4 linked regions of the Homo sapiens genome follow. The protein of the gene in region 3 purifies or fractionates together with the protein of the main gene of each other region. This does not show direct contact. Each region holds a gene or a part of one and is shown on either strand. Other genes may lie near its edges. The genes, in order: FREM2, YTHDF1, CTSG and TCF25.

Evidence for each region.
Region 1: the proteins of CTSG (region 3) and FREM2 purify together in Homo sapiens (affinity purification with mass spectrometry; 2 studies listed by BioGRID and IntAct, with this or other methods). This does not show direct contact.
Region 2: the proteins of CTSG (region 3) and YTHDF1 purify together in Homo sapiens (affinity purification with mass spectrometry; 3 studies listed by BioGRID and IntAct, with this or other methods). This does not show direct contact.
Region 4: the proteins of CTSG (region 3) and TCF25 purify together in Homo sapiens (affinity purification with mass spectrometry; 4 studies listed by BioGRID and IntAct, with this or other methods). This does not show direct contact.

What each region holds. Positions count from the first base shown.
Region 1 is NC_000013.11:38,878,823-38,886,422, reverse strand, and holds part of FREM2 (FRAS1-related extracellular matrix protein 2 precursor), read right to left. Parts: intron 7,593-7,600; coding exon 7,446-7,592; intron 6,140-7,445; coding exon 5,636-6,139; 3' UTR 1-5,635. UniProt on the Homo sapiens protein: Extracellular matrix protein required for maintenance of the integrity of the skin epithelium and for maintenance of renal epithelia. Required for epidermal adhesion. Involved in the development of eyelids and the anterior segment of the eyeballs.
Region 2 is NC_000020.11:63,205,757-63,213,356, reverse strand, and holds part of YTHDF1 (YTH domain-containing family protein 1), read left to right. Parts: intron 1-7,600.
Region 3 is NC_000014.9:24,572,973-24,581,483, forward strand, and holds CTSG (cathepsin G preproprotein), read right to left. Parts: upstream 3,279-8,511; 5' UTR 3,252-3,278; coding exon 3,197-3,251; intron 2,483-3,196; coding exon of another isoform or gene 2,441-2,482; coding exon 2,293-2,440; intron 1,839-2,292; coding exon 1,703-1,838; intron 1,528-1,702; coding exon 1,273-1,527; intron 839-1,272; coding exon 665-838; 3' UTR 546-664; downstream 1-545. UniProt on the Homo sapiens protein: Serine protease with trypsin- and chymotrypsin-like specificity. Also displays antibacterial activity against Gram-negative and Gram-positive bacteria independent of its protease activity.
Region 4 is NC_000016.10:89,897,154-89,904,753, reverse strand, and holds part of TCF25 (ribosome quality control complex subunit TCF25), read right to left. Parts: intron 6,198-7,600; coding exon 6,105-6,197; intron 5,988-6,104; coding exon 5,882-5,987; intron 4,120-5,881; coding exon 3,960-4,119; intron 637-3,959; coding exon 549-636; intron 1-548. UniProt on the Homo sapiens protein: Component of the ribosome quality control complex (RQC), a ribosome-associated complex that mediates ubiquitination and extraction of incompletely synthesized nascent chains for proteasomal degradation.

The sequences.
Region 1 (7,600 bases), on a different chromosome or scaffold from region 3:
TCTGTCTCAAAAAAAAAAAATCTATCTCTCTCTCTCTATATATATATGTATGTACATATATGTGTGTGTATGTGTGTGTGTGTGTATATATATATTTTGCCAACAACTTGCATTTGAATTCCTGAAGTCACAATGGAAGACTGACTTGACTACTTTTTGTAATGTGCATAAATTTAGCTTTTACAGAAATTATCTTTTCTTCTTACTCAGTAGTTGCCTTTCTCTATTTTAAGTGATTTTTATTGTACTGCTCTTTACTTTTAATGCTAGCTTTTAAAAATTTACATTCTTATTTTTTCTTCTTTCTTGAGGTGCAATACTGACAATTCTTATCTGAGAGGATGATCCAAACATTGGGGAAAATAAAGATCCATAGTAGAAATTCACTTAAACTGTGACAATCATGTAATCAGTGTAGGCAACATTTGGCATAGTAAAAGAACATTGTGCATTTGATAATTATAATTTTAAAAACTTCAACGCTGTTAACATTTTAACACTTTATTTCAGTTATTTAGTTCATTTTAAGGTATTCGGTCATCCAAAAGAACTACATACATGTGATATTTGACTTATTATTCTTAATTAAACCATCAAAGTAATTTTTTTTACATCTTAAATGTCAATGTTGAACCTCCATTGAGAGAAAAATCAAGGCACATATTGTCATCATTTTATTTAGTATGATGCTTTTGATCTTTTGCAGGAAGTTCTTTTTTCTTTCATCTGAAAGCCTTAACATTTTACACAGAAGGGATACTGCACAAATGCTGTGTGGACTTACCAGCTTTCTGATGAATGAGGATGTTAATTACATATTGAAAGTGGTAATGGTTTTGAAATGAAAAAGAGAGCATTATTGGAAGAATGAAAAATACATCTCAGAAAGAAACCTATAGTTCAACAAATTAAAAGAAAGAAAGAAAAAAAGCAAAAGTAGGTGTCAGGGCTGGACCAGCTTTGTTGTTGTTATTGTTCTTTAGCAAACAAAATATTGAAAAAACACAAAGCAAACAAATACCAGGGGAAAGAAATTAAATGTGCTTGAAAGATAGGGAAGAAAGATACTGAGTGTCTAAGGAGCTATTACTGCTGTTCAAAAGTTTGCAAATTTAATATTCTGATTTTTCTCCTAATAAAATAAAATTAAGAAAGACATTAGTGTATTTTGTCAACACTAGTTCAAGAGAGAGTCAGTTTTCTTTCCTTATGGAGAAGTTTCTGATGTACTCTTCCTGATGGAAACTATAGAAAAATATCATGTCCTTCTATTTTAACATGTTTTATCAAAATCAAAATAGTTACCAAAATCTCAAAGCATTTTGTTTCTTAGTATCAAAATCCATGGAAAAGGGGAGAAATCAACATTAAGGGATAATTTGAACCTATATATAATGTTTCCTTAACAATTAAATGTTATTACCATGCAATAGTGCAATCAATTCTAGGAAAACACCTCCAGGAAATATATTAACCTCTGAACTAATGTTAAAGAAGCTCCCATGAGAGTATGTTTTCACAAATGAGCTTTCTGTTGACCTTTTTGTAAAACTTCATATAACGTATTTCAGTTAAACCTATGATGCCTTTAGTGTTATCTCTTTCCTAGAAATGAGATGTTTGGTTATTTTATGTCTGTGTGTGTGTATGTGTGGCTGTGATAGCACTGGTATTTATAGTTTCCTGCTAAATTACGTATTTCTGAACCTTGGTAAACTGAACAGATTGAACGTTTGGGTCCCATTTATTGGCCATACGCTTAGTGAAGACACTTGTTTTCATCCTTTTATTACTGCTGTCATGTCTAGAAACATGAGTTTCAAAGAATGGCAATGTGCTTGTTTTCTGATTAATACAATTATGAAAGTTTCAAATTTGTAAAACATTTACATTTTTAAACATATTATTTTCTTTACTTATTAAAGGACCAAATTGGCTTCCAAGTCAATACTAAATAAGTATTTTCAAAAAGCAGAAATAAAATATCCACCTTTTAAAAGCAAATGTCATTGTATTTAGCTCTATTATTGGTACTTTAAAAAAATTTTAACCTGGGAATATTTTAACTCTCAGCATTGAGATGTATAAGGAAAAGCTCTCTGTGATATTTACACAGGTCCATTTACATTTTTAATGTTGACTTTGGAGTTGGCACACTGGAAAAGAATTAGAGGTAAGATGACTTGATAAAGAAGCTTTTTTGCTGCTTACAGAACTAAATCCCTTCATATTGAGCCTAGAGTTGGTCCTTCTTATCACAAATGCTATGCAGTGGCTTGGCAGCAGGATGCTAGCTGACCTTTATGCAAATTGTTCAAACACTGTGGATTCTTCTGAGAGGGTGGAATTCAGAAGGTGCTAATGCTGCTAACGAGCTGGAAGAAGAGTTTATGTGCTAAGTGTTATTCTTGGAATAAAGTGGGCCTATCTTTTACTAAGAGGAAAAGAATGTGCAGTCCCACCCACAGCTCTACAAGGCACTCCCCCAGTGAGGTTTTGCGAAGGTCAATTTTACTAAGTTACTGGTTTGAATCATTTTGTATAAATCTGTCATCAGAATGATCCATACCCAGTAGGGCTCTTTTAGACAAACAAGAGTGGAGTCTGCTGTTGTTATTCTAGAAAGATTTTTAAATTATGGTTCACAGATAATGACTGTTGTGTTTTTGGTTCAGGAGAGAATCTAATGCATATCCTGACACTTTAGTCCAAATAAAGAGCTGCATTCAGTTATAACCTTCCCAAGGACAGCAAGTGGAGCTTGGTTTCTATGCAATCCCTCAGAATAGCCAATCCTAGGTGAGCACCAGTAAATGTTAACTAAGGGCAAAAATGGGAATAAATAAGATCATCATTAAAATACATATTTCAGTGCTTCATGATTCACATGCTTAGAAGAGCCACTTGAATAATATTTATTTTTGGTTTTATTTTTACTATATAATATCAACAAGACCTTGATTGGAGTCAGAAGCCACTGAGTATCTAAGGAGCTATTATTGCTATATCCTGTTCTCTATGGGAAGTTATTTTATGTATTTGTTCTGATAGTACCAGAATAGTTCTCTAAAAACAAAATGCTAAACATAAGGGTCTATTTTATTTAACAAAAAATTTACCATATTCTTCCCACTAACAAGAGTTTCAAAAAATAATTAATGTATATTAAATTACATACTTAGTAAATAGATATTAAGAAAAATAATGCAAAATCCCAAGTACTTTATATTTTAAAAAGCTATATCTGCCTATTTCCCACAGATTCTCTTTTTTCAAGGGAATAAAGGGAAGGAAAAAGGGAGAGAGGAGAGTAAGAGAATAGAGGACAGAGAAGGATAAATATTTGGTAGGATAGGATAGAAATGTTCTGCATTTTATAAGCTCTCCAATTTATATAAAGTAGCTTCATTAGAATATGCATTGTAGAGTGAAATTTGGTATAAAACCAGCTTGACCCAAAGCCTGAAAACAGACTTCGTACAGTAATGCTTCACCGATTGCTATATTCATTGACAGACTCCAAATTGCATGATAGGCTCGGAAGCTGTTAACTACTAAAATATCAGCAAGTTGATTGAGTATACTTGCTCTAACAGTCTACATCAATTGAACCCAATGGTAAGTAGGGAAAAGTCTACGCACTATTTGAAGTTCCCTAATTCATGTTCATTCCCATACAAATTATGAGGTAGCCAAAGAAGTAGCTAAGCATCTGCCAGAAGGTAAAGCAAAGGAAAGGGGAATGATTAAGAAATTACCACTATTTATCTTGCTAAATAAACTCCTGGGCTACACAGTACTTTCTGTTCATATAAGCCGTTAGTGGGACTTTTGAGCTGTAGATGATATTTTTGTAAATTCTCCAATGAAAGGATACTACAGTCTATTTTTAAAAAACTGAACATGAAGTGCAGAGCTGCCTAAGAGAAGAAAGGCAACTATTGGACATATGACCTCTCTCTCAGTATCAGTGTTGCTTCCTTATCTTGATCAAGAAATGGTTGATACTTACAGACACCAAATTAAGATGTGCACATCTGTTCTGAGAAGTTTGCCTTTTAAAATTCTGCAGTGACCAAGATGTCCAATGTGGCCAGCTTATGGCTAGAAGTCAAAGGGGATTCTAGCCAGCATCTGAAGGATAATCTGTAGGCATTATTCTTTTTCTCCTGACCTTATTTTTCTTTGAAACATGTTTACTAGCTTTTGGAAAGCTGAAGTTTTCCCCTTCTAAGCGAAATTTCTGCTATTTGGTAACAAACACATTGATGCAGAAAGGCAATGGGAGGCTTGCCAAGGAAGCTCACTCAAGTTCCTTGGCTTTGGGAGGTGAATGGTAAGCACTGTTACAAATTATATTTTTAAATATTGAGAGGGACCACATTGTACCAGTTCACTGAACTGGGGATGCCAGAGCGATGTCTTCTTGAACCAAATAAAAATATGGTCAATGATTCTGGCCACCTCCAAGACCATTTCTGGAATGATAGTTGCAGAGAGTCCCATCGTTTGGACCAGATGCTGGATAGAAAGCTAATAAAATGTCCTGTAGCCAATTTAAGTTCTAAATGTTATTGTGTGATTACGCTACTCCGAGGGATAACCTCATCTGTCAAAATGTTCCTTTATTCTATAAAGTATGTATAAGAGGCACTCTGATTATACACATTATATTAATAAATACCACTTTCTCCCTTCACCATCTGTAACAATGTTTCTTATTATCATTTATGGGTTCAATACTGCAAACATCTAGGCTCAGTTCTTAGAGAACATTGTCTTGTAGTGACTCTAACTCTATGGCATTTATTCATCACCAAAATCTCACCAACCCTCTAATTTCCCACAAATGTTGAGCACCAATAAGGTATATTACCATGCAAGAGCTCTACCATTACTCACTATATGCCAAAACAGAGCAGCATCTCTTAAAAATCTCTTTCAGAATTAACATATTCTTTGGTTTAATTTAAAATTAAATATGCAAACAAAACAAGGAGAGTCTGATGAGAATGAGAAGCAATTCAAATTCAAGTGAGTGAACTTCCTTCCCTCTATCTTTCCTTCCACTGTCTCCCAAGTAGTAGATCAGTTGATTTGTGGGTTGAGCCACCCTGGTCATAATTCTATGCTGTCTTCACCTATTTGAAAACTTGTCATAATAAACAGTGTGTTCACCAGTTTTCCAGACTAGCAACAAAAACCTTTCTAGTAATAATCTGTTATACAATTAATAAACAATGTGATAATTGCACCTTCAACATTCACACTAACATAGCAACAGTAGATTCCTCTTACACTTGTAAGAGAGTCTGTTAGCACCTTTTAATAGATTTATCTCCACTGCATAGAGAATATGTCTAAAATGAGGAGTACATTCCTCACATCATGGCTCTGTGTACATATGAGTACGTTGTTGCTGCCTTTGGGGCAAGAGGAAAGATGCCTTAATTTGTCCTTTGATGCAAAAAAGAGTATGGAGAATTCAAATCAAACTCCATTAGTACAGTCATATTCTCTAAGCAGCTTCATCACAGCCATCCTCCATTCTCTATGGTTTACCAGAAGTATTTAAGGTTCCATTGTGATCTTTTCCGAGGCACTTACGGAAAAGGTTGAATTCTACCTGCAGTCATCAAACTTCTGAGCTGTCATTGTGATGGCTCTGTGGGGGCACCATGGGCTCACTGCTGCTGGAGCCTTTCGGGGCATCCTTCCCCCTGAAACTTTCCTTGCCCCTGCACATCAGCACTGCAATGACAGTGAGGCAGATGGTGAGTAACCCTACCGTGGTGCCTCCCACCACAGTGACCAGGCTGACTGCAGAGCTGGGGCTGTTGAGCTCCCAGGGGAGGATGCCATCTGGAGGTGCTCTCCCATGGGGGATCTGCCTCTTGGTGCGGTCCAGGGCAATGTGCTGGATGTTTGTTCCTCGACTGTTTTCAGCACCAATCTCCCATGCCAGTGAGGGTGTGCTCCTGATCTCTCTCTTCTTCCGGCTCTTGGTGGTGGATTGGGGCTTTCCTTGACTCACCAGAGAATGGTACTCCACACTTCTTTTGCCAATACCTCGATTGGCATTGTCTTTCGATCTCACTGTATAGATCGTATGTATATACCATTCTCGGCCTAGAGCGACCTAGAAAGCACAACTCTATTTATTAGGAAATACTAGATACCATGTCAATCTAATCCACGACTCTTTGCAAGAGAAATTAATGGCAGAGATATTAATAAATGATTTTAGTCTGCAGAATTAACTTACTTAATATTTTTGAATGAGTACTAGGTGCAAGGCTCTGTGCAAAGCACTCTGTGATATATCCTGTGCAACTCTTAAGGGAGTGAATATGTGATACTTGTTGTCATAGAATGAGAGAGTTCTAAAGAACTATTAATAGATTATACAGTCTAGCTTATTCACTAAAAAAATGAGTAAATTAGAATATGCAGCAGTTAAGTGAGTTGCCCAATGTTACTCAACCAGTTAGTGGCAGAGGCAGGACTACAGCTCAAATCTTCTGAACCCCAGGACTCTTTTCACTGTGTCTTGCTGCTTATTGCATATAAGACCATAGGGGGAAAAAATCAATTTTCAAGCTTTTCTGGGGCTTTGGAAAAGGATGAATTTTCTGATGAGTCTTTGAAGCATGCAAGATTTAGGAAGGTCAGATGCTTTGAGATTTAATGGCAAAAATAAAAATAAAACATATCATACTTCAACTTCTTGTTTGAAAAGATTGAGAATAACAAACATGCTTTCTTAAGATCCTTCCTTAGGTTGAATGAAAATAACACATTTCTCCAGGCCATCCTGTCGGGTTAATTTTCAGTAAATATCCTAAAAGCCGCACTTGCTTCGGCAGAGATTTGCAGTGTAAGCACCTCTTGAAATTTGTGGCATTTGCTCAGTGTTGTGGCAGCTGCCTGTGTTTCCCTCCACCTTTGATCCCTGAGTCAGGAATTTGTATCTTGGTTTCTGAAATCTTTGAGAGTGGAGCTGTGCACAATTGCTTTCCTGAGTTCAGCAGTTCACACAAGATCACTCTAATTAAGATATTGGTGAAAAGTCAGCAGGAAGGAAGTTTTGAATAAGAAAAGCAGATTACTCAACTGTCAGACACAGATTTATATTCTGGGCTAAATAAGACTCTTCATTACACATAGTCTTAAAATAATATTAATACATTAATAAAAGTGATAAGAGCTATGAAAGCCAGATATATTGCTAACAAAAATAATAAACGCTGGGTTTATGGAGTGCTCACCATATGCCCAGCATAGGGTTATGTAGTTTATTTGCCATATCTTATTCAATGTTCCCATTAACTGTATGCAATATTACTATTACTGCTATTTACATATGAGACATCTGAGGCATATAAATGTTCCATAACTTGCATGTGGGTACACAACTACTACAAATGAGCTTGTTTTTGGCCTACCTGAAAGAGTGGTGTTGAGTCGACTTTAAATCCATCAGATCCAGGCTGATTCACTAAGAGAATGGCTTCAGGGTCATCCACTGCTAGTTTGGCATTAAATAGGACATTTCCAAAACTGGTCGCTTGTGTCTCTGGCTGAGCTTTGTCCTTTAAGC
Region 2 (7,600 bases), on a different chromosome or scaffold from region 3:
GGGTTCAAGCATTCCTCCTGCCTCAGCCTCGGGAGTAGCTGGAATTGCAGGCACCCACTACCACGTCTAGCTAATTTTTGTATTTTTAGTAGAGACGGGGTTTCACCATGTTGGCCAGGCTGGTCTCAAACTCCTGACCTCAGGTGATCCACCCGCCTCGGCCTCCCAGAGTGCTGGGATTATAGGCGTGAGGCACCGCGCCCAGCCTGGTTTCAATTTTAACTCCACCACTGACTGGCCTGTGTCCATGGCTTGCCTTCTCTTGCCTCAATTTCCTTTTCTGTAGAAGAGAGAGAGTAGTAACTGTTTGTAGAATTGTTGGGAGGATGACATCAGATGGTGCACATAAAGCGCTGAGACAGTACCTGATACAGCAGGGCCCAGTGAGTCATAGCTGCCCTGTTTTCTTAGGTAATTCAGGCTTTCTCTGCCTTGGCACTGTGGACATTTTGCACGGGAACATTCTGTTTTGGGGGCTGTCCTGTGCATTGTTGGATGTTTAGCAGCCTCCCTGGCTTCCCACCCACTAGATGCCATTAGCAACTCCTTCTCCCCATCCCCAGTTGTAGCAAGCAAAACTGTCTTGGTGGATGTTTTTTGGGGGATACAGTTGCCCTGGTTAAAATCTACTGGGAGCTGCTCTCTCTCCTCTGTGCTGCTGTTGCAGCAAAACTCCCAAGAGAAGCGGTATCTGTTTATGTCTAAGAGTCCAACTCGGGAATCAGACTTCCCCTGCCTCACTTTCCTACCTCCAGGCCGTTGGCTTGGATGAGGGGCTGCACCTCTGTGAGCTCCTCACTTTGGTGAGCAGGCCTCATGGGGCAGCACAAAGCAGATGCTCTGAGTGCTCCATTTCGTGTGCTGTGATTCACATTCCTTCCTCCGCCACTCCAAGTAGCCCTCAGCTACTGGGCATGTTTACTTTAAAGTAAAACCAGGCTTCACCTCTTCTCTGTGAAGGAATAAAACTAGTCTGCCCTTTTCTGAGGTGTCTTAGAACTTCTTAGAATGTTCCTTCATCCCCCTCCCTCCTACTGCACTTGGCGAATCAAGCAGCTTAGAGACCAAGAAACCTTGTACAGGTGGAGCCTCGGCAGCGCTGCCCCGCGCTCCGACCCTGCTTCTGTTTCTTGTCTCTTGGTTGCCTTCTGAGAATCTGCCCTTCCTCTGGGCAGAACTGACTTGACTTTAGTGATGGGCCTTTGGATAGAGGTAATGGCAGGAAGTTAACTAATTTTTTGAATTTCTTGTTTTCTAGTGTGTTCTTATTATTTTAGTACTTTAATGGTATTATGTACTGAATTTTAGCCAATAAAGGGGGAGGGAGGTTGCATCAGTACACTTAAAAGTGTGTGTGTGTGTGTGTGTGTGTGTGTGTGTGTGTGTGTGTGTGTGTATTTTGGAGACAGGGTCCTGCTGTTACCCAAGCTAGAGTTCAGGGGCATGATTATAGCTCACTGTAGCCTCAAATTCCTGGGCTTAAGCAATCCTCCTGCCTCAGCCTCCTGAATAGCTGGGACTACAGGCATGCACCACTACACCTGGTGATTGATTGATTGGTTGGTTGTAGACACAGGGTCTCTTTGTGTTGCTCAGGCTAGTCTTGAACTTCTGGGCTCAAGTGATCTTCCTGCTTTGGCCTCCCAAAGTGCTAGGATTACAGGTATGAGCCACTGTGCCCAGCCAAAAATATTTTTATAAAGTCGGAGCTTTTGTGTTGTTTGGGAGGATTTCTTTACAAATCGATTATTTTTATGTCAGTGGGTGTCTTAGCTCCATATGTAGAGTATACAGTATGGTTTTATAACTTTTGATTTACACAGACATACCTTTGGAGCCATGGCCACAGTTAAGATAGTGGGCATATCAATAGCTCTGGGTCCTTTTTTGTTGGAGACAGGGTCTCACTCCATTGCCCAGGCTGGAGTGCATGATGTGATCATGGCTCACTGCAGCCTCGACTTCCCAGGCTCAGGTGATTCTCCCACCTCAACCTCCCAAGTAGCTAGGACTACAGGCATGTGCCACCACGCCCAGCTAATTTTTAAATTTTTAGTAGACATGAAATATTGCTGTGTTGCCCAGGCTGGTCTTGAACTCATGGGCTCAAGCAATCCACACGCATCAGCCTCCCAAAGTGCTAGGATTATAGGCATGAGCCACTAGTGCCCAACCTAACCCTGGGTACTTAAAAGAGAAAAATCTAGATATGGTTTGTAGTAGCCAGTTGGAGGCTACCGTGTTTTGTGTGAAACTGTCATACTTAGAATGGTTTAGAAAGTCTTAGGAGAATGCCTGCCTGTTAGGTTGGTTTAACTTGTAATGGGCTGTGAGGGGTTGTTGCCGTGTGGTGGGGGTCCTTCCCTCAGAGAGGCCTCACCCGCCTTGCTGTGCTTCTGGTGCTAGAGTTTCAGTCCTAGTTGCCCCTGAGGCGCTTGCGACTGTAGCCGCTCAGTATCTGTCTTCTAGTCTGTGACTTGAATGGGAGTTGGGGGAGCAGAGGAACTGGGAGTGAAGGGCTCTGGGTTGGGCTTGATTGTTGTGATTTTCTCTCTTTTTTTGTTTTTTGAGATGGAGTTTCGCTCTTGTTGCCCAGGATGGAGTGCAGTGGCGCGATCTCAGCTCACTGCAGCCTCCACCTCCCTGGCTCAAGTGATTCTCCTGCCTCAGCCTCCCGAGTAGCTGGGATTACAGGCACGCGCCACCACGCCTGGCTAATTTTTTTTGGTATTTTTAGTAGGGACGGGGTTTCTCCATGTTGGTCAGGCTGGTCTCGAACTCCCGACCTCTGGTGATCCCCCTGCCTCAGCCTCCCACAGTGCTGGGATTACAAGCATGAGCCACAGTGCCCCGCCGATTCTCTCTTTTGAGGCTTTTCCTGCTCGGGGACTTCTGGTTTCCCAGTTCTCTGTTGTTTTCTGAAAGGAAAGACTGTGAAATGACCCAGAACAGTTCCTACTCAGAGTTTAGAAGACACTGTCTTGGCATGATGCCTGAGTTGGGAATAGATGCCGCTGGCCCCCCAGGCTTCCTGCACACTCCCTGACCAACAGACTGAGTGTGTTTGCTGTGATCCCACTGACAGAAATTACCAAGGCCATCTGGGCATGCCTGTACCTGTGCTGCCGGATGCAGTTTGGTCAGCAACAGACCACAATATGATAGTGGTCCCATAAGACTATGATGGTGCTGAAAAATTCCTGGCACCTGGTGACGTTGGAGCTACCATGTTGAGGGCAGTGTATTACTCGTGTCTGTGGTGCTGCAGTAGGTGTGACCAAACCTACTGCCCCAGTCATACCAGAGTATACACCTACAGTTACGTACAGTACCATACAGTACGTAATAATTGATGATAAACGACTGTTACTACTTTGTGTATTTGCTATACTTTTAAGAGCATATTCTGCCTACTTACTAGAAACAAAGTCAACTGTAAAGCAGCCTCAGGCAGGTTCTTCAGGAGGAATCCAGAAGAAGGCAATTGGTGTGACAGGAGATGACAGCTCCATGTGTGTTGTTGCCCCTGAATACCTTCCAGTGGGGCAAGATGTGGAGGTGGAAGATCCAGACCCTGTGTAGGCCTAGGCTAATATGTGTTTTTTGTGTCTTTTTGGGTTTTTGGTTTTTTTGTTTTGTTTTGTTTTGAGGCAGGGTCTCTCCCTCACCTGGGCGGAAGTGCAGTCATGACTCATTGCAGCCTTGACCTCCTGGGCCCAAGTGATCTTCCTGCCTTATTTTTGATTTTTTGTAGAGATGGGGTCTCACTGTGTTGCCTGGGCTGTTCTCGAAATCCTGGGCTGAAGCAGTCCTCCTGCCTCGGCCTCCCAGAGGGCTGGGATTATAGGCATGAGCCACTGTGCCTGGCCGTGTCTTCATTTATAACAAAAAAGTTCAAAAAGTTAAAAAAAATTTAATAGAAAAAAGCTTATGGAATAAGGATATAACAAAAAAAATTTTTGTACAGCTATATGATATATTTGTGTTTACAAAAGAGTCAAAAACCTTAAAGCTTTTAAAAAAGTAGTTTGTAAAGTAAAAAAGCCATAGTAGGCTAGGGTTTATTATTGAAGAAAGGAAAATTTAAAAATTGAGTGTAGTGTTAAGTGGACGGTGTTTCTAAAGGTGACAGTGGTGTCCAGTGAGGGCCCAGGCCTTCACATTCTCTCCCTGACTCACCCAGTGCAACTCAGGCCTACCTGCTCCATTCACCGTAAGTGCTCTGTACAGGTGTCCCGTTCTTGATTTCTTATACCGTATTTTTACTGTACCTTTTCTGTGTTTAGATAATGTTTAGACACACAGATACTTATCATTGATGTACAGTTACTTCCATTATTCAGTACAGTTACACACTGTACAGGTTACGGCCTCAGTGTGTGGTAAGGATACTGCCTCCATGCTCACACGTCTCTGTTTGTGTGAGGACACTGATCACACAGTGACGAAATTGCTCATCAGGTTTTGGGTGGTTTTTTTTCACTGAACACAATGCCTCATCAGAGCATCTAGGACTTCTTTGAGAACAGCCTGGAGATGCTTGGCACAGGGCTTCCTGCTGTGCCTGGGCAGCTCTGGTGGGCCCGGGGTGACCTGAGGGCCAGCAGGGGAGTGTCAGTTTCTTGTGGCTGCATCTAAAAATATGGGCTTCCTTAAAATACCCAGTGGCAGCGCCTGCTAAGTAGGCATTTGCCATCACAACGGCTTCCCAGAAACGCAGCTGGAAGGACATAGTGGGATCTTAACGTGCTTCTTACTGGCAAGTTGCTGAAACAAATGCAGAAATTCTGTCAGAAACTGCTGTCTCTGCATATTGATGCCACCAGCTGAGGGGCTGAAATTGCAGCCTCAGAGGGACCAGTCCTGAAAACAGATCTGAAAAGTGAGCAGCCAAGTAAGTAAATTAGGGTTTTTCGGTTATTTTCCTCTAACATTTTCTCTGTGCTCCCTAAGGCTTCTCCTGAAGAACAGGTCATCCTGGTAGGCCTGTTCCCAGTCCTGGGTCAGAGCTGCTTCCCAGGAGCCATATCACTCCCTCACTTTTCAGCAGTACCCTTAATACTTTTCCATTTTACATAATTAATTATTTTGTTTTGTTTGTTTGTTTTTATTAAGCAAATGCTTCTCTCTGTTCCTCTTGGGCTTCTGAAGGGATCCTTTCTGCTTCTCCCTCTAGTCTCTCCTTTTGGTCATTCCAACTCCATCTCAGAAAAATGGATATAGGAAGTAAACTTAACCATTGAACTTCAACTTAAATGGTTCTGGTCATTCGGATGGAAGTTTCTTTTTTTTAATGTGGTTAAATTTGAGTAAATATGTAAAACTGCTCTTAGTTCTTTTTTGTTTGTTTTTGTTTTTTTTTTTTTGAGACGGAGTCTCACTCTGTCACCCAGGCTGGAGTGCAGTGGCGTGATCTTGGCTCATGGCAGCCTTCACCTCCCAGGTTCAAGCGATTCTCCTGCCTCAGGCTCCGGAGTAGCTGGGACTACAGGTGCCTGCCACCATACCCGGTTTAGTAGAGACGGGGTTTAACCATATTGATCAGACTAGTCTCGAACTCCTGACCTTGTGATTCACCTGCCTCGGCCTCCCAAAGTGCTGGGATTACAGGCCAGAGCCACTGTGCCCGGCTAAAAATGTGTTAGCCTTTCTTCGATGAGGTCGTCAGTTCTCCGCAGGGGCTGCAGTGAGGCGCCTAGCATGTGGAAGTGTTCAGCAGTCTTCTGTGGAGGCGGCTGCAGAGTAACAGGATCATGGTTTTGCTTGTATTGTCCTTAAAAGATCTGTTTATGCCACTCATTTACGAGGACCAAAATATGCTTGCTCAGAGGTAGTAATGTGTTAAGAACAAGCTTTGAATTTGTTCTTTTTTTTGGAGGGGGGTGGGGGGGACAGAGTCTTGCTCTGTCACCCAGGCTGGAGTGCAGTGGCTCGATCTCGGCTCACTGCAAGCTCCGCCTCCCGGGTTCACGCCATTCTCCTGCCTCAGCCTCCTGAGTAGCTGGGACTACAGGCACCCACCACCACGCCCGGCTAATTTTTTGTGTTTTTAGTAGAGAGGGGGGTTTTACAGTGTTAGCCAGGATGGTCTTGATCTCCTGACCTTGTGATCCGTCCACCTCAGCCTCCCAAAGTGCTGGGATTACAGGCATGAGTCACCGTGCCCGGGGTTAATGCAGCTGTATCCCTGAGAAGTAAACTTTCACACTCATAACTCAGTGCCCATGGAGCCGTGGCACTAAGGAATGTTGAGGGAGCAGCACAGCTCGCCTCCAGCACTTGGCAGCGAGTGAGCGCTGAACCTGTGCCTGGCTGTGCGGGAGACAAAGGGAGATCAAAGGCCCTGAAAGGAGGCTGCATGTGTTTTCCAGGCAGCCCGAACTGTGCGTTTCCAGTTGTCTCCCACGCACTGTGACCAGGACTGTGAATGGGACAGCTTCCCTCACCAGGGAAGGAGTGTGGGGCAGCAGCCTGACATGTGGCTCATAAAGAAGGCAGAGGACAGCATCTCCAGGTTTTCTTATGTACAGAATGACTGACTTCACATAGCTTTACAAATTAACCTGCTTCTTTACCTTCAGAGTTTTGGAGGAAAGATGGCAGATGTAATAGGAAATGGGCTGTCAGTGAGATTGAGGTAAAAATGGAAATCCGGCCCACAGAACCCCAGGTCACTGTATCCAGCCTGCCTGTGTGGCCGTGGAACCCGGTGAGCACAGAAAGTATCAGGAGGGTTTAGGGCTGCCAGCAGAGCTGATTAGCGTCACCGTCTTCTGTGGCTCAGGATGTGAATGGTGGTGATCTGGAGCTGAAGGATTTGCAGAGTACTGGCTAGAACTGCAGGCCCTGCACCTTGGGTAGAGGGAAGCTGGATGGGTCATTTATGGGCTCTCTGTCTGTGCAGCGTGTGTGCTAGGTGTGTCCATTTAATACTTAAAACGGATTTTCAGGAATGTTACATGCCTCATGTAATGTGGATTTTTTCATGTGGTAAGTGATGTCCTGTCTTAGTTAAGGCTTTAGGTGTAAGTCAGAAGTGTCCCTGGGCATCTGTTTCTGTGGCCTGACTCCTCTGGTTGGTGTTGGGGCCAAGTGGATTAGAATACCACACAGCCATCGAGGTCTTTTTTTCCCATCTGCTCTTTTTGCGTGGAAGGAAGATGTGTTGTGATTGCAGCGCTGCTGAGGAGCACGTGTCCAGCTAATGGGAGGAGGAGGGCTGGCTTCCCTGTGGGGGGGACTGTCCCCTTGCCTGCCGTCCTTGAAGGCACCTGCGGCCAGTGACTCGAGGAGCAAGTCCTGTGCACAGACCGCCCCCCTGATTCGCTCACCCCCCCAGTCTGGGCCTGTTGGCCAGGGCAGCACCCGAGGGAAAGGCTGCAGCAAAGGAGCCAGCATCATGGAAACTGTTTTGAGGGAGAATAAGCTCAGATTAATCTCATGTTTGTGGAACACTGATAGCATCCCACTTGTCTTCTTATACCCCCAGAATCTCAAATTTATATTACGGGGAAACAGCAGTTAGTGCATTTTAAAAGATGATTCTGGGGCCAGGCGCTGTGGCTCATGCCTGTAATTCCAGCACTTTGGGAGGCCGAGG
Region 3 (8,511 bases):
TTTTGGAATTTCAGTTCTGTCTTTTTGGCCTGCCAGTCTTTTTTTTTTTCTTTCTTGGAATGGTGTCTTGCTCTGTCGCTCAGGCTGGAGTGCATGGTTCACTGAAGCCTCAACCTCGTGGGTTCAACTAATCCTTCCACTTTAGCCTCCCAAGTAGCTGGGACTATAGACACATGCCACCATGCCTGGCTAATTTTAAAATTTTTGTGTAGAGACAGTGTTTCCCTATGTTTCCCAGACCTAATCCCCAATGTGATGGCATTAGGTGGGGCCTTTGGGATGTGATTAGGTCGTAAAAGCTGAGCTCTTTGAATGAGACTAGGTCCCTTGTAAAAGAGACATCAGAGAATTCCCTTGCCCCTTTTGCCATATGTGGACACAGGGAGAGGATGGTTGTCTGTGAACCAGAAAATGGGCCCTAATTAGACACTGAATCTGCTAGTGACTTGATCTTAGACTTCTTAGCCTCTAGACCTGTGAGAAATAAATTTGTTATTTATAAGCCACCCAATTTGTGCTATTTTGTTGTAGCAATCCAAACAAACTAAGTACTGAATGACGTTTAATGAACAAATGAGGAATTGGTTATTTATACTCTGTGGACGTTTATTAAGGCTCTGGCAACACTGTGGAGCTGGCCTGTGTCCCCGAGAAGAAGAGTCAGTCACAGGGGGGTCTCCATCTGATCCAGCAGTTTGAAGCTTCTCATTGTTGTCCTTATCCAGGGCAGGAAACTTGAGACCCTGGTGAAGACTTCTGGAGGAACCCCTGACGACTTTCCATAGGAGACGATGCCGTGGGCCACATTGTTACACAGCAGGGGGCCTCCGGAATCCCCCTGTAGGTAGAGAGGAGAAGGGAGACTGAGACAGGCCTCCCTGCTCCTGCTTCCCTGAGCTCCGGGCTCTCAGGGAAGGCAGGGGTGGGTGGGCCCCTTCAATTGCTGGGTGTGTGTGAGATGGAAGATCGGTGGGGTACAGGAGCCAAGCCTCTGGATCTTTTCGGTCGCTGGACTTCAGCTCTGCCTTAATTACTGTCTCCAGCCCAATCTGAGTCAAGGTACCTCTCCCTTCTCCAGGAGAATGTTGCCTATGTATGTGTTGTGGGTCTTCCTCCTATTCCCCCAGAGACCAGGTTGATGGGGAAAACAATCCCCAGCCCACCCTGGTCTGGCTGCCAGGCTGAGGCTGTGGGGATGGAATCTGTTCGCACTGCCTGGCTCTGCACGGGCCCCTCTCTCCCGGGGTGTGTTGGCCAATGCCCATGCCTTACCTTGAAGGCAGCCTTCCGTTCCCGCCGGTCCCCCACACAAATCTGCCTTCGGGGGTCGTAGGAACCGAAGATGCGGAGGCACTGCCTATCCCTCTGCACTCTCAGCTGCACCTCTCGGAGTGTATCTGTTCCCCTCCTCATGCTGACCCTGCCCCAGCCGGCCACAGTGCACAGCGTCCCGGGTCTCAGTCCCTCCTGGGCTCTAGGCAGAGCCACTGGGTTCACGTTTCGATTCCGTCTGACTCTTCTGCTCAGCTGGAGGAAGAATGTAGGCGTTCCCGCTCAGCTGGGGCCTCCAGCCAAGGCTCGGGGGTCGCTGGTGCAGTACACATCCCATGCCCTCCCCGCCACCCCGGAGCCTTGCCCTCACTTCCTCCTCCATTGTCCCCGGACACACTAGGAAGGAGCCAGAGGGCCAGGTAGGTGGTACCTGCAATAACATGATGTCATTCTGGATGGTCCGCTGATTATATTGAGGGTGGCGGATGGCTCTGCGCGCAGTGATGTGTTGCTGGGTGTTTTCCCGTCTCTGGATATTGTGGGCGCCCAGGGTGACATTTATATTGCTGCAAAAGCAAGAGGTAGGTCTGGGCTGCAGGAGCTATGGTCCACCAGCTCTGCAGGGTAGGCAGACAGCACGGGGAGGGCAAGACTGCAGCTAACCAGAATCGAGGGGATGGGAGGGCCCTGGGGCTCAGCTGTATCCTCTTTCTCAGCAGCTCTGAGCTAGGGATGACAGGGTGGTACTTGCCTTCAGGTTTGCTTCCCCAGATTAAGTTGATAAATAGCCTGAGTTTATATTTTGAGCCCCAATATGTGTCTTCCATCTCTTCCTCTTGCTCTTTTTGATCTTATCCTCCTTTCCTCCTCATTTACACTGGCCTGTTCCCTCCCGCAAAGACTCACTTGGTCTTTCTTTCACCCTTTCATTGCTACAACTCTTCTTTCAGATGGCTCTTCCACCGAAGAGCTCCGCAGGGCTGTGTTCCTGGCTGGCCAGGAAGTTCCTTAGCTCCTCACCTTCCCCAGCAATGAGCTGCTGTCAGCACAAAGTCTTCTCGCACCAGGAACCCTCCACATCTGCTCTGACCTGCTGGACTCTGGATCTGAAGATACGCCATGTAGGGGCGGGAGTGGGGCCTGCTCTCCCGGCCTCCGATGATCTCCCCTGGAAGGAAGCATTTGGCACTTAGCTCTATGCTTGCTGAACCTGCAATGTGGGTACCAGATTGGTGGCTCCAGAAAGGCTGGAAGATGGGGACGGCAGGAGAGAGGGTGCAGGAGAGGGAGGAGATGGTGCTGAGGCTTGGAGTCTATGGGGCAGCAGATTGGGAGGGGGCTCCAGGGTTCTACAGGAAACACTGCTGTCTTGAAAGGAGCCCTTTTCCCCATCCTAGGCCTCACCTCCCTCCTCCTCTCCAAAAGAGGGAGAACAACCCTTGTTCCAGGCAAGGCCAGCTTCAGCCTCAGGTATTGAGGAGAATGCTTTGCTGTAAGTACAGGATTGTTCCTGAAGTTCCCTTATACTTTTATCCTCATGGAGCTTCCCAGAGCCCTCTGAGTCCAATTCAAGACCACGTGGGACTGGTGTTTAAAAATCTAGACATGAGCTGATGGTACTGTTATTGCTGTATTCTTACCTCCTAGGTAGGGTCTGACACATGCTGCCAAATTATTTACACAAAGCATGTTTTTATAGCACTTATAGTGTGCGGGCAATTCCAAGACATTTAAATACTCTAACTTATTTAACTCTCATGGCAACTCTGCAAGATCGGTATTAATATTATTCTCATTTTATAGATGAGGAAACACAAATTCAAATAACTTGCTCAACAGTACAGAATTAGGATATACCAAGGCAATTTGGCTCAAGAATCTATGGGATGAGGTCAGGCCTCTGAGGGTGGGGATGGTCACTCACCTGCCTCAGCCCCAGTGGGTAGGAGAAAGGCCAGCAGAAGCAGGAGTGGCTGCATCTTTCCTGAAAGGCTGCCCAGTCAGTTGCTGCTGTGCTTCCTCCTCCTAGACTTTAAGGCCCTGAGAGAGGAAGGAAGGGGTGGGGACAGGGGATTGAGAATTCACAGTCCCATTCTCCTGCTACCATGAAAGGTTTCATCACCCAAGGCTGCTCAGGAAGTTTGCCCACAAACTGCCGGAGATGTGGGTGAGACCGTGTAATCCAAGCCAACATAGTGAGCTCTTGAGCAGCTGCTAAGTCAGTGCCGAGAGCAGAAATAGGAACCCAGCACAACAAGGAAGGGGCTTGGGGCATTGTGTCCAGAACCCTCAACCCATCAAATTCCAGAATACTCCAGCAAAGCAAGAAAGCTGGCAGCTGCCCACTTCCTGTTTTCTACTCCTCTGGGATTAGATCATTATTGCTTTTGAATTTCTGGGTTTCTCCTAATGAATGCAAGTTCCCTGGATTGCTTATCTGTATATACTTAATAAGTCTGGGACAAGGATGAATGAAAGGGTGTGGTGTGGTGAGGGATGTGGGTAAGAACATCAGGAAAAAGTTGAAGGGGGCAGAAGAGGAAAGGGTAAGCCTGCCTGCTTTCAGTGTTTGGCCCAAGACCACCCTGCTGAGACCCCTGTTGCTCTAATTTCTTTCTAGAAGCTGTCAAGTCAGATTGCGTAGGCACTCTCCTGAGTAGGTGAAGCGTGCGGCTGGAGAAAGAAAAGGAAGAACAAGGCTCTGACAATCACAATTACTTTCTTAGGTCACTTGAGTCCTCAGTGAAAATTGTGACACAATTGAAGACTTCTGCTTGCCTGTCTCCTACCCAAGGTTAAAGTCCTTATGTTCCAGACGGCTCCTTGCTTGCAGAAAAGGCTTAGTAATTTGGTTTTATTGGGAGCTGTCGTATCCTAGCTGGAAAATATCTAATATCCCATTTCACTGGTGACATTAGAGGCCCATCAACCTAATCCCAGGAGCAAAAGCTTCTGAGAAGGAGGTACATTCATTGCTGTGCTACCTATAAAAGAATTAGAGCCGCATACTCAACAATGGGAGAAAAGAACAGCAAATTACTGCAGAGTAACACAATGGATTATTAAAAACACTTAAAATATTTAGAAGATTCTGTGTATGCACAGAAAACCGTTATAATCCAGTATAATTTTTGCAGAAATAGCAGAATTGAAGACTAATACAATTCCCAATCTCTTTTTTTCTGTCTTTTATTTTGAAAATCTTTTACTTAGGTATTTATTTTTAACTTTTATTTTAGGTTTGGGGGTACATGTGAAGGTTTGTTACATAGGTAAACACATGTTACGGGGATTTGTTGTACATATTTATCACCCAGATATTAAGCCCAGCACTCAATAGTTATCTTTTCTGCTCCTCTCCCTCCTCTTACCCCACTGTCTGTTGTTTTCTTCTTTGTGTTCACAGTTCTTATCATTTAGCTCCCACTTATAAGTGAGAACATGTATTATTTGGTTTCCTGCATTAGTTTGCTAACTAACATGTATTATTTGGTTTCCTGCATTAGTTTGCTAATAGCCTCCTGCTCCACCCATGTCCCTGCAAAGGTCATGAGTCCATTCTTTTTTATGACTGCATATGTATATGTACCACAATGTATATGTACCACATTTTCCTTATCTGGTCTATTGACGGGCAGTTAGATTGATTCCGTGTCTTTGCTTTTGTGAATAGTGCTGCCGTGAACATTTGCGTGCATGTGTCTTTATGGTAGAATGATTTATATTCCTCTGGGTAAATATCCAGTGATGGGATTGCTGGATCGAATGGTAGTTCTGCTTTTAGCTCTTTGAAGAATCACCATACTGCTTTCCACAATGGTTGAACTGCTCCCACCAACAGTGTATAAGTGTTCTCTTTTGTCTGCAACTTTGCCAGCATCTGTTATTTTTTGGCTGTTTAGTAATAGCCATTCTGATTGGTGTGAGATACAATTCCCAGTCTTTATGGAGTATAATAGGCCCTCTTGAAAATCTCATGAAAATTAGGGTTCCTTTCCTTATACATAAATATATAATTTTTTCACTTATTTTTAGAGCTGCACAGAGCTTAACCTCTTCTCTTGTACAGGCTCTATAAAACGTCTTTATGCATCTGAAAAGTAACGTGAAGAAGAAGGGAGCAAAGAGAGAATAGTATAGCACCTTTATTAGTGCCTTAGCATTTGGCATAATTTAATTTATTAAAAATTTTCAACATTTTGTTTTGTTTTAAAAATGTTAGTTTAACTTAAAAATAGAAGAAAGGGATAAAGAAAAACCTGCACATATGAAAAAAAAGGAGTAAAATATATGCATTCACTCATGTAATAAAGATTGATTAGGAAATTTCATTAATAGTGACCTAGAATTTCATGCAATCTTCTCATTAAAAGTAATCAAAGCTATTTAAGATATCTAAAAAGCTTACAAACCTCGAAGAACTACCAGCATTGAAGTGACTATCAGATCAAGTTGAAGGAATAATGAGAGTCTAGTTAGGAAGCTGCTATTGTTCCAAGGGAATGTGCTGAATCCACAAAATTTCAACTTTTGTTTTTGATGACCACATTAAGGAGAAATCTGTAGAAAATATTTAAAGTATGCTATATAGTTTCTTCTGAAGAACGGATGCTACCCTTCCCTTTATGGGACTAGCATAACCTCCATGCCAAACCCAATAGAGACAATATAGAAATGAAACATTATAGGTCAATAAACTTTTGAATATTGATGCAAACCAAATCAATCAATAAGCAAATAGATATTAATATATCATAAGTAATTTGGGTTTATTCTAGGAACACATAGTTGACTTTTCATTTGAAAAGCAAAATTGCTGTAACACATCATATGAACTGACTAAAGAAGAAACATCATGTGATTATTTAATTGAAACAATGAAGGCCTAAAATTTACCCTTATTTACTTAAAAAATACTCTTAGCAGACTAGGAATAAAAAGAGTGTCTTTAATCTGATAGAAGTTATCACAAAATTCCCACAGCAATCATTATACCTAATGGAAAAGTGTTAAAACCTTTTTTTGAGAGCAAAACATTACAATAATGCCTGAATACAAATTATTATCAGTTCTGTTCAACAAACAGTACATTAGCAGTTTTAGCCAGTGCAGTTAGGTAGGAAATGGAAATGAAAGGTATAAAGACAGGAAAAGAGAAAACAAAATTGTAATGATTTGAGGAAGTGATAGTATACGTAGACAATCCAAAATCATCTACAGGTAAATTACCATAATTAATAAGAGTTTTACAGATTTGCTAGAAAAAATCAATTTAAAAATTAATCATATTTCTACATGTACTGCAACACTGTTAGAAAGAAATTTTTAGAAAGTAATACTTAAATGGCATGGAAATGATCAAATAACTAAATGTAAATCTAAAAGAATATGTGAAAGACCTCTTTGGTGAAAATTATAAAACTGAATGAAGAGACATTCAAGAAGACCTAAACATGAAGAGATTCCATGTTCATAGATTGGAAGAAGACTAAATATTGTAAAAATGTCAGCTCTCCCAAAATTGATCTATATAGATTCATTGCACCGAGCGGTATTTTATAGAACTTAACTGATTGTAAGTATATTTGGAAAACAAAAGGCTAATGATAGCCAGGTCACCATTAGAGAATGAGAATAAGATGGAAGACTTGCTTTTGCAAACAAAGCCATGGGAATGAAGATAGCGTGGTATTGATGAGGCATAGAAACATGGACTAATGGACCAGAAATAAGGACTCCACACGCATGTGGACGCTGACATACACATGGATGGATTGATTTATGATGGATGTTGCATCTTTCATCATAATAGGGAAAAGACTATTTTCTTTTTTTATCCCCAATAAATGGTACTGGGATAATAAATTGCCTTTATGGTGTCCTATAGAGACAAATATTTTCTATGTGGAAAAATAAAACTTGACCTTCTTCTCCCAAAATATCAAAAAACCTATTCTAGGTAGATTATGGATCCAAGTAGGAATAATGATTTGAATATATAATGGAAGAATATCTTCATGATAGGTAAAGATTTTAGTACTGTATATAAAGTACTAATAATGAAGAAAAGGACTGATGAATTTGACACATCTAAATTGAGAGAAACAAAAGACCATTCATGGAGTAGGCAAAGATGCTTGAAATACACATAAACAACAAAGGGCTTATATTCAAATTACATAAAGAACTCAGAAATCTGGCCAGGTGCAGTGGCTCACCCATGTCCCAGCACTTTGGGAGACCGAGGCGGGTCGATCACTTGAGGTCAGGAGTTGGAGACCAGCCTGACCAACATGGTGAAAACCTGTCTCTACTAGGAACATACACAAAAAAATTAGCCAGGATGGTGGCACATACTTGTAACTTCAGCTACTCGGAAGGCTGAGGCAGGAGAATCGCTTGGGGAACTGGGGAGGCTGAGGTTGCTGTAAGTGGAGATTGCCTCACTGGGCAACAAAGTGAGACTCTCAAAACAAAACAAAACAAAAACTTGCAATGAAGAAGACAATTAACTTAATAAAACAATAGCCAAAAGACTTGAACAGTTTTATCTCAAAACAGGAAATCGAAGTGGTCAATAAACATGAAAAAGTGTTACTCTGACTAGATATTAGAGAAGCACCCATTTGAAGCACAATGAAGGCCACGTATGGTGGCTCATGCCTGTAATCCCAGCACTTTGGGAGGCCAAGGTGAGGGGATCACTTGAGCCCAAGAGTTCGAGACTGTGTGTGATGGCATGTGCCTGTAGTCCCAGCTACTTGGAAGGCTGAAGTGGGAGTTGAGGCTGCAGTGAGCCATGATTGTGCCATTGCATTCCAGCCTGGGTGACAAGACAAGACCCTGTCTCAAGGAAAGAAAAAAGAAAAAAGTGCAATAACAGTTGCAGCTACCATGTTGGCTCTTTTCCCAATCCTAGGTATATACCCTAGAGAAACATCGGGTGCAAATTTCTACCAGATACATGTCCAAGAAGGTCATAGCAGCATGTTCAAGATAGCCTCAAACTGGAAACACTTCGAAGGTCCACTAACAGCAGCATGAATAATCAAATTGTAGTATATTCATATAATGGAATATTGCATAGCCATAAAAATAAAACTCTTCCTTCATGCAGCTATGCAAATGAATCTTACAAGCATAAGTTAAAAGAACCCAAGAAGACAACTTTAATTTTATTTATATAAAGTTCAAAACTAGGCAAAATGAAACTATACTGGATAGAAATACATACATACA
Region 4 (7,600 bases), on a different chromosome or scaffold from region 3:
GCCTGTTGGGCAGGTTATGTTCTTTAGGAAGCAGGACTGACGTCACAGAAATGTGAAAATGCACCCAGGGCGGGTCCATCTGCGTGCACACAGGGCGAGCCCTGGAGGGCCAGGGGATGACCCCAAGGCGTGCACTTTCTCCTGTGTTTGCTCCCTCTTTGTTTATTTTGTTTTTTGAGACGGGGTCTCACCATCACCCAGGCTGGAGTGCAGCAGCACAAACACAGCTCACTGTACCTTTGACCTCCCAGGCACAAGCCGGCCTCCCAAAAAGCTGAGATTACAGGCATGTGCCGCCACGCCTGGCACCCTCTTTATATGAGCCTCGTTTTTAAGCTGGAGGCTGCTCAGCTGTCCCACCTGGACTTTTCCACACAGATGAGGGCTCCAGAGCCGTCCCATGTCAAATGACAGTCCCCGAGGCCGCCACCACAGCCCCTCCTGCTGCTGGAAGCAGGTCCCTCAGGGCCTCTCAGGATGAGTGAAAATGGCTCCCAGGCTCCGAACCCACAGGCACCCACAGATGGGCACCACCAGCCACTCTTTACCTTATTTCAGCATTGGGTCCAAAGAAGCGGTGACTGGAAACGCTGGCGTCGGGCCGCACACTGCAAGACTCGAGCAGGGGCAGGAGGACTGCAGGGGAAGCGGAGGCTCTGTGGGGGCCCTCAGCACACACCCCAGCCACTCCTAGCCCCCAAGGCAGTAAGGGACACAGCGAGGTCCTTGTCACAGACACAGCTGTTCTAAGGTGGAGAGTCTGCAGGGCCAGCGGCTTGCTTCCGGGTGGTATTCTGAGTTGCTGCTGCTGGCGTGCCCAGGGTCTGAGGCTGGGGGTCTCCTTCACACCAGCCCCAAGGAGGCTGCCAGGGCCCCCATTTGCATCCAAGGGAAGACTCACCCACCACCCTCCACACACATGGGGTTGGGTTTTTTTTTGTTTTTCTGAGACAGGGTCTCACTCTGTTGCTCAGGCTGGAGTGCGTTGGCGAAATCTCGGCTCACTGCAACCTCCACCTCCCAGGCTCAAGCGATTCTCCTGCCTCAGCCTCCCGAGTAGCTGGGATCACAGGCGCACACTACCACGCCCCGGTTAATTTTTGTATGTTTAGTAGAGACAGGGTTTCACCATGCTGGCCAGGCTGGTCTTGAACTCTTGACCTCAGGTGATCCACCTGCCTCAGCCTCCGAAAGTGCTGGGATTACAGGCGTCCGCCACCACACCCGGCTAATTTTTATATTTTTGGTAGAGAAAGGGTTTCACCGTGTTGACCAGGCTGGTCTCGAACTCCTATGCTCAAGCGATCCTCCTGCCTCGGCCTCCCAAAGTGCTGGGATTACAGGCGTGAGCCACCGTGCCCGGCCGGTTGGATGTTTTAATCACAAAGACTGGACCCCATGGCAGGCTGGTGGGAGCGGAGGCCACCTGTGCCCAGTGGAAGAGCCAGCACTGCAGGTTGAGGGCAGAGGCCGCCATGTAGGGGAACGGGCCCCGAGGGCAGAGCCTGCAGTGATCTCCAGTGTTCTGGGGTAAGTGGCAGCGGCTTCTTGGCAGCCCACCTGCCTTCAAGGGAGGTGCTGACGCTACAGCCTGTGACACAGCAGCACAGCTCTGCCACAAAGGACAGGGCCTCCCAGCCGCGTTTCCAGACACGGCTGCACTGGTGGAGCATATGGCCAGCTGCATGCAGCCCCAGAGGAGGACAAAGGTGCTTCTTAGACACAGGGGACGAAACTTTTGGGGTCAGCGAGCAGACTGAGGCCTGGCCAGGCCCCTCTGGGGGGCACGTTTCTGCCTGTGCTAGAAGCTGCCCAACCCCACGCCGTGGGCCTCCTCGGGGCCCAGACAGAGCCCTGGAAACCCACAGAACCGAGAAAGGGATGCTGCTTCCAGGACATCCTAATAGGCGATGAGTGGTCACGTAATGTGTGTATACTAGCTGCACGCAAATAACCCTCACCCCTCACCGCCCCTCGGAGGAGGCCCGTCTTAAGGAGGGATTTCACCCTCACCCCTCACAGCCCCTCGGAGGAGGCCCGTCTTTTTTTTTTTTTCTTTTTTTTTGAGACGGAGTCTCGCTATGTTGCCCAGGCTGGAGTGCAGTGGCGCGATCTCGGCTCACTGCAAGCTCTGCCTCCTGGGTTCATGCCATTCTCCTGCCTCAGCCTCCCAAGTAGCTGGGACTACAGGTGCCGGCCAACACGCCCGGCTAATTTTTTGTATTTTTAGTAGAGACGTGGTTTCACCGTGTTAGTCAGGATGGTCTCGATCTCCTGACCTCGTGATCCGCCCACCTCGGCCTCCCAAAGTGCTAGGATTACAGGCGTGAGCCACCGCGCCCGGCCGGAGGCCCGTCTTAAGGAGGGATTTCACCCTCACCCCTCACAGCCCCTCGGAGGAGGCCCATCTTAAGGAGGGATTTCACCCTCACCCCTCACAGCCCCTCGGAGGAGGCCCGTCTTAAGGAGGGATTTCACCCTCACCCCTCACAGCCCCTCGGAGGAGGCCCGTCTTTTTTTTTTTTTTCTTTTTTTTTGAGACGGAGTCTCACTATGTTGCCCAGGCTGGAGTGCAGTGGCGCGATCTCGGCTCACTGCAAGCTCTGCCTCCTGGGTTCATGCCATTCTCCTGCCTCAGCCTCCCAAGTAGCTGGGACTACAGGTGCCCGCCAACACGCCCGGCTAATTTTTTGTATTTTTAGTAGAGACGTGGTTTCACCGTGTTAGTCAGGATGGTCTCGATCTCCTGACCTCGTGATCCGCCCACCTCGGCCTCCCAAAGTGCTAGGATTACAGGCGTGAGCCACCGCGCCCGGCCGGAGGCCCGTCTTAAGGAGGGATTTCACCCTCACCCCTCACAGCCCCTCGGAGGAGGCCCATCTTAAGGAGGGATTTCACCCTCACCCCTCACAGCCCCTCGGAGGAGGCCCGTCTTAAGGAGGGATTTCACCCTCACCCCTCACAGCCCCTCGGAGGAGGCCCGTCTTTTTTTTTTTTTTCTTTTTTTTTGAGACGGAGTCTCACTATGTTGCCCAGGCTGGAGTGCAGTGGCGCGATCTCGGCTCACTGCAAGCTCTGCCTCCTGGGTTCATGCCATTCTCCTGCCTCAGCCTCCCAAGTAGCTGGGACTACAGGTGCCCGCCAACACGCCCGGCTAATTTTTTGTATTTTTAGTAGAGACGTGGTTTCACCGTGTTAGTCAGGATGGTCTCGATCTCCTGACCTCGTGATCCGCCCACCTCGGCCTCCCAAAGTGCTAGGATTACAGGCGTGAGCCACCGCGCCCGGCCGGAGGCCCGTCTTAAGGAGGGATTTCACCCTCACCCCTCACAGCCCCTCAGAGGAGGCTCGTCTTAAGGAGGGATTTCACCCTCACCCCTCACAGCTCCTCGGAGGAGGCCCATCTTAAAGAGGGATTTCACACATGCTGTCAGGCAGGGTCAGCCCCGAGGTCTGACCAGGTGGCAGCCTCACTGTGCCCGCCACATGTGCGTGGATCGAAGCTACCCAGATGCAGTCAGGGGTCACGGCTGTGCAGGCTGAGTCCATCTGGGCGGCACAGGCCTCCATTCTGCATCCCAGCATGGTGCAGAGCACAACCCTCTCGGCCACACCTCGGCGCTGCCGAGACCTTCCCCTGCTTTGCTCTCCTCCCCAGCACTGGTACAATCCAATGCCCCGCACCTCCCAGCCAGTTCTGTCTCTGCACTCTAGAACACAGGCCCCACGGGGGTCGGGATGCCTGCCACCTCCTCGTGCCTGGCTTGGCACGCAGCGGGTTCCGAGATGAGCCGACCCTCTTTCAGGTTTGGTAGGGCAGGTTTGCAGGCCCTACCAGAGAATGCATGTTTCTACAAGTGTGGGGAAGGACTGGGACCTGGCCTCCACCACCAGGAAGAGCAGCCCCCACGGCTGACAGGACACACCCCTACCCCAGGCGAGACACAGCGCTCACTCACCTCCAGGGAACATGGTGAGCGCCTGCTGTATCAGGAGAGAGGCCTTCTGCCTGGCAGAGCTCTGCTCACACTCAGGGAGGTCTGTCTGCTGGCTCAGCAGGAAATACGCCAGTGGAACAGAGAAGGCAAAATTAGGGAGCTGGGACAGGTTCCGATGAGCCTACGAGGGACGAAGAAACAGAGCGTGGAGCCTTAAGTCATAAAGACAAAATATGTGAGTTTGCAGACGCTCTGACATCACCAGTGAGCCCTACCCCGAGCAGGTATATTCTGCAGGCAACGCAAGGGCCTCTTCCTAACTCAGCATAAAGATAACTTAAAACGTCCACCTGGGGGGCTTTCCGCATGCAGAAGATACAGAGGACGTGGGAGGGCCTGAGAAGTAGACTGAGCCGGAGCGAGGACACCGTGGGGAGTGAGGGTCCCACCTGCCGCCCAGGCTCCTCTCTGAAGCTGAGCAGTTGGTGCTCTCAATGTGGAAAATTTACAGACGAGAGCAGCCCACCCCCGCGCGAGTCTGTGAGAGCAGCCCACTGCCGCGCGAGTTTCCGAGAGCAGCCCGCCACGCGAGTTTCCGAGCAGTCTACCACCGTGCCAGTTTCTCTTGCCTTTCTCAGCCTATGTCACATATTGTAGACATGTGACTCACTGCATTTTTTTCTATCAAAATGGGATCACAGACTCACAGTTTTGTGACCTTAAACACCATCATCAACATTCTTCTGCAGCCCCATTTTGGGGGACTCCCTGAGGTTTCCCTGCACCTACATTTTTGTGAGCTCCAGGAATTTCTATAAACCACATTCCTGGGGGTGAGACTTCCTGGCCAACTATGCCAAATGCTTAAAAATTCAAAATAATTTACCCACTTTCATTATCCATGAACATGTGCTATGAAAAAAATTCAACACAGAAGCAGAGAAAGTCAAGAGCTGTCGCCTTCTCCCCAGCCCCAGGCCCTGCTGGAGGTTAGCGTTACAAAGCCCGTGTCCTTCCAGATAAGTGCTGCCCCATAGGAACATAATGGGAGCCCAGGTGTCAATTTAAATTTTCTTTTTTTTTTTTTGAGACGGAGTTTCACTCTGGTTGCCCAGACTGGAGTGCAATGGCGCGATCTCGGCTCACCGCAACCTCCACCTCCCAGGTTCAAGCGATTCTCCTGCCTCAGCCTCCCGAGTAGCTGGGATTACAGGCATGCACCACCACGCCCAGCTAATTTTGTATTTTTAGTAGAGACAGGGTTTCTCCATGTTGAGGCTGGTATCAAACTCCTGACCTCAGGTGATCCGCCCGCCTCGGCCTCCCAAAGTGCTGGGATTACAGGCGTGAGCCACCATGCCCGGCCCAATTTAAATTTTCTGGGAGCTGCATTAAAGACAAAACAGGTGAGATTAATACGTTATATCTAACCCAATACACCGAAATTATCATTCCAACACGTGTCTGTGTTAGAGTTACTGGGGACAGAGCTCAAGTCTCTCCTGCTGTACTCACACTCTTCCCATGGAACAGGACAGACGTGCTGGGGGTCCCTGTGTCAGCCCCACGCAACCAACCCTCCTTCTACCTCCCGGCTGCATCTTCCTGAACTGCCCATGAGGAGCTCGGGAGTTGTCGGTTTTTCATCATTACCAGCATCACAGTCCTTGCAGGCACACGTGTGCATGTGTACACACGTTTGAGCATGTGTACACACGTATGAGGATTCTGACATAAGGCTGCTGTACTGTCCCTAGGAAAACCACATTCCACTCCGTAGAGGCGGCAAGGGAGACAAACAAGGCAGGAGGACGTGGTTCTGCCCTCAGACGATTATCGTTTCATCCCCAAACGTCCCCTGAGCGCACAGATACTGAACCAAGAAAACAGAAGGAGAAGCAGGTGTCCGTCCCTCCACGGGGCCTCACCAGGCTCGCACCCACCTCCCACTCCTGGAAGAGGCGGATCAGGTACTCGTAGTTCCGGGCCCGCAAGGCCAGGTGGTCGATGAGCAGCAGCATGCAGAGGGGGTCCTCATCCGGCTCGAGACTTCCGGAGGCAGCACAGAGAGCAGAGCAAAGGGGAACAGGGGCATCGTCAGGCTGAGAGTGGGCCTGCAGCCAGGACAGGGAGCGTGGACGGGCTTGGCCCTGAGCAGACACTCACCTCAGGATGAGCTTGCAGTACTCCAGCGCCGTGCGCGGGCAGCCTCGCTTCTCCAGGAAGCTCATCTGCTTGTAGAGGGCCAGGTAGAAGCTCCTAGATCCAAAATAGTTCCACATGAATTACAACGACACAAAGGAGAATGCTCTCTGCTCAGCGCCCCGGCCAGCACCCACTCCACCCCGCCCTCTGCTCAGCGTCCTGGCCAGTACCACCCATTCCACCCCACACACTGCTCAGCGCCCCAGTCAACACCCGCTCCACCCCACACACTGCTCAGCGCCCCAGTCAACACCCGCTCCACCCCACACACTGCTCAGCGCCCCAGTCAGCACCCGCTCCACCCCACACACTGCTTAGCGCCCCGGTCAGCACCCGCTCCACCCCCATTCTGCTCTCTGGGTTCTGCTGGCATTTTCTACGTGCCCAGCACACAGAGATCCATGTCTGGAGAGGAGGTGTGCGCTCTCCTTGTCCTTTACAGAGTTATACACGAATTTGCATACTGAAAATCAAACTTCTTTGAAATCTTTTTTTTTTTTTTGAGACGGAGTCTCGCTCTGTCACCCAGGCTGGAGTGCAGTGGCGCTATCTCGGCTCGGCTCATTGCAAGCTCCGCCTCCTGGGTTCATGCCATTCTCCTGCCTCAGCCTCTCCAAGTAGCTGAGACTACAGGCACCCGCCACCACACCCAGCTGATTTTTTGTATTTTTAGTAGAGACGGGGTTTCACCGTGGTCTCGATCTCCTGATCTTGTGATCCACCTGCCTCGGTCTCCCAAAGTGCTGAGATTACAAGCGTGAGCCACCACGCCCCGCTGAAATCTTTATCTTGTTTTTTTGTTTATTATTTATCATTTACAGGAAGAGAGTTAAAATCTCTTGTTACAATTACGATCTTAATTTATCCTCCAATCTCAACAGTGGCTAACAGCACTCAGGCTGGATACATGGAGCCCTGTGACTTTCGGATGCTGGTGGGCTGCTACTTCCATCAACAGCCCACTGTCTCTTTCGCGTCGGGAAATATTAATATTTTATAATCTACTTCAAAGAACTAAGAATTTCATTGGAAGAGACAAAACTAACATAAAGAAAACCAGTGGAGGAAATTCAGACCCAGCACACAGTGCAGACAATCTGTGCAGAACGGGTCAGCGGACCTTGGCTTGCCAGGAGGGCTGAGAGGGTAGGAGCGGATCCCACACTGCAGACAACCCAGGGCGGCCAGAGAAACAGGGCACTGCACACAGGAGAGGCAGGACAGCGGACAGAAGCTGGTCTGCTCCACAAAGGGCCCACAGGACAGGCTGCGGGAAGGCCTGGCGGAAGCCAGTCTAGGTCTGACCAGCGAGGCCTGATGCCAGAGGGATGGCTTTAGGGGCAGAAGTATCTGAAAGAAGAGAGACCTCCACATGCGGTCGCTCAGCACAGGGGAGCGAGGGTCAGGCTGACTCTGAGCTCCTCACTGATTTAAGGTCAAACCTGCAAAGCCTTCCA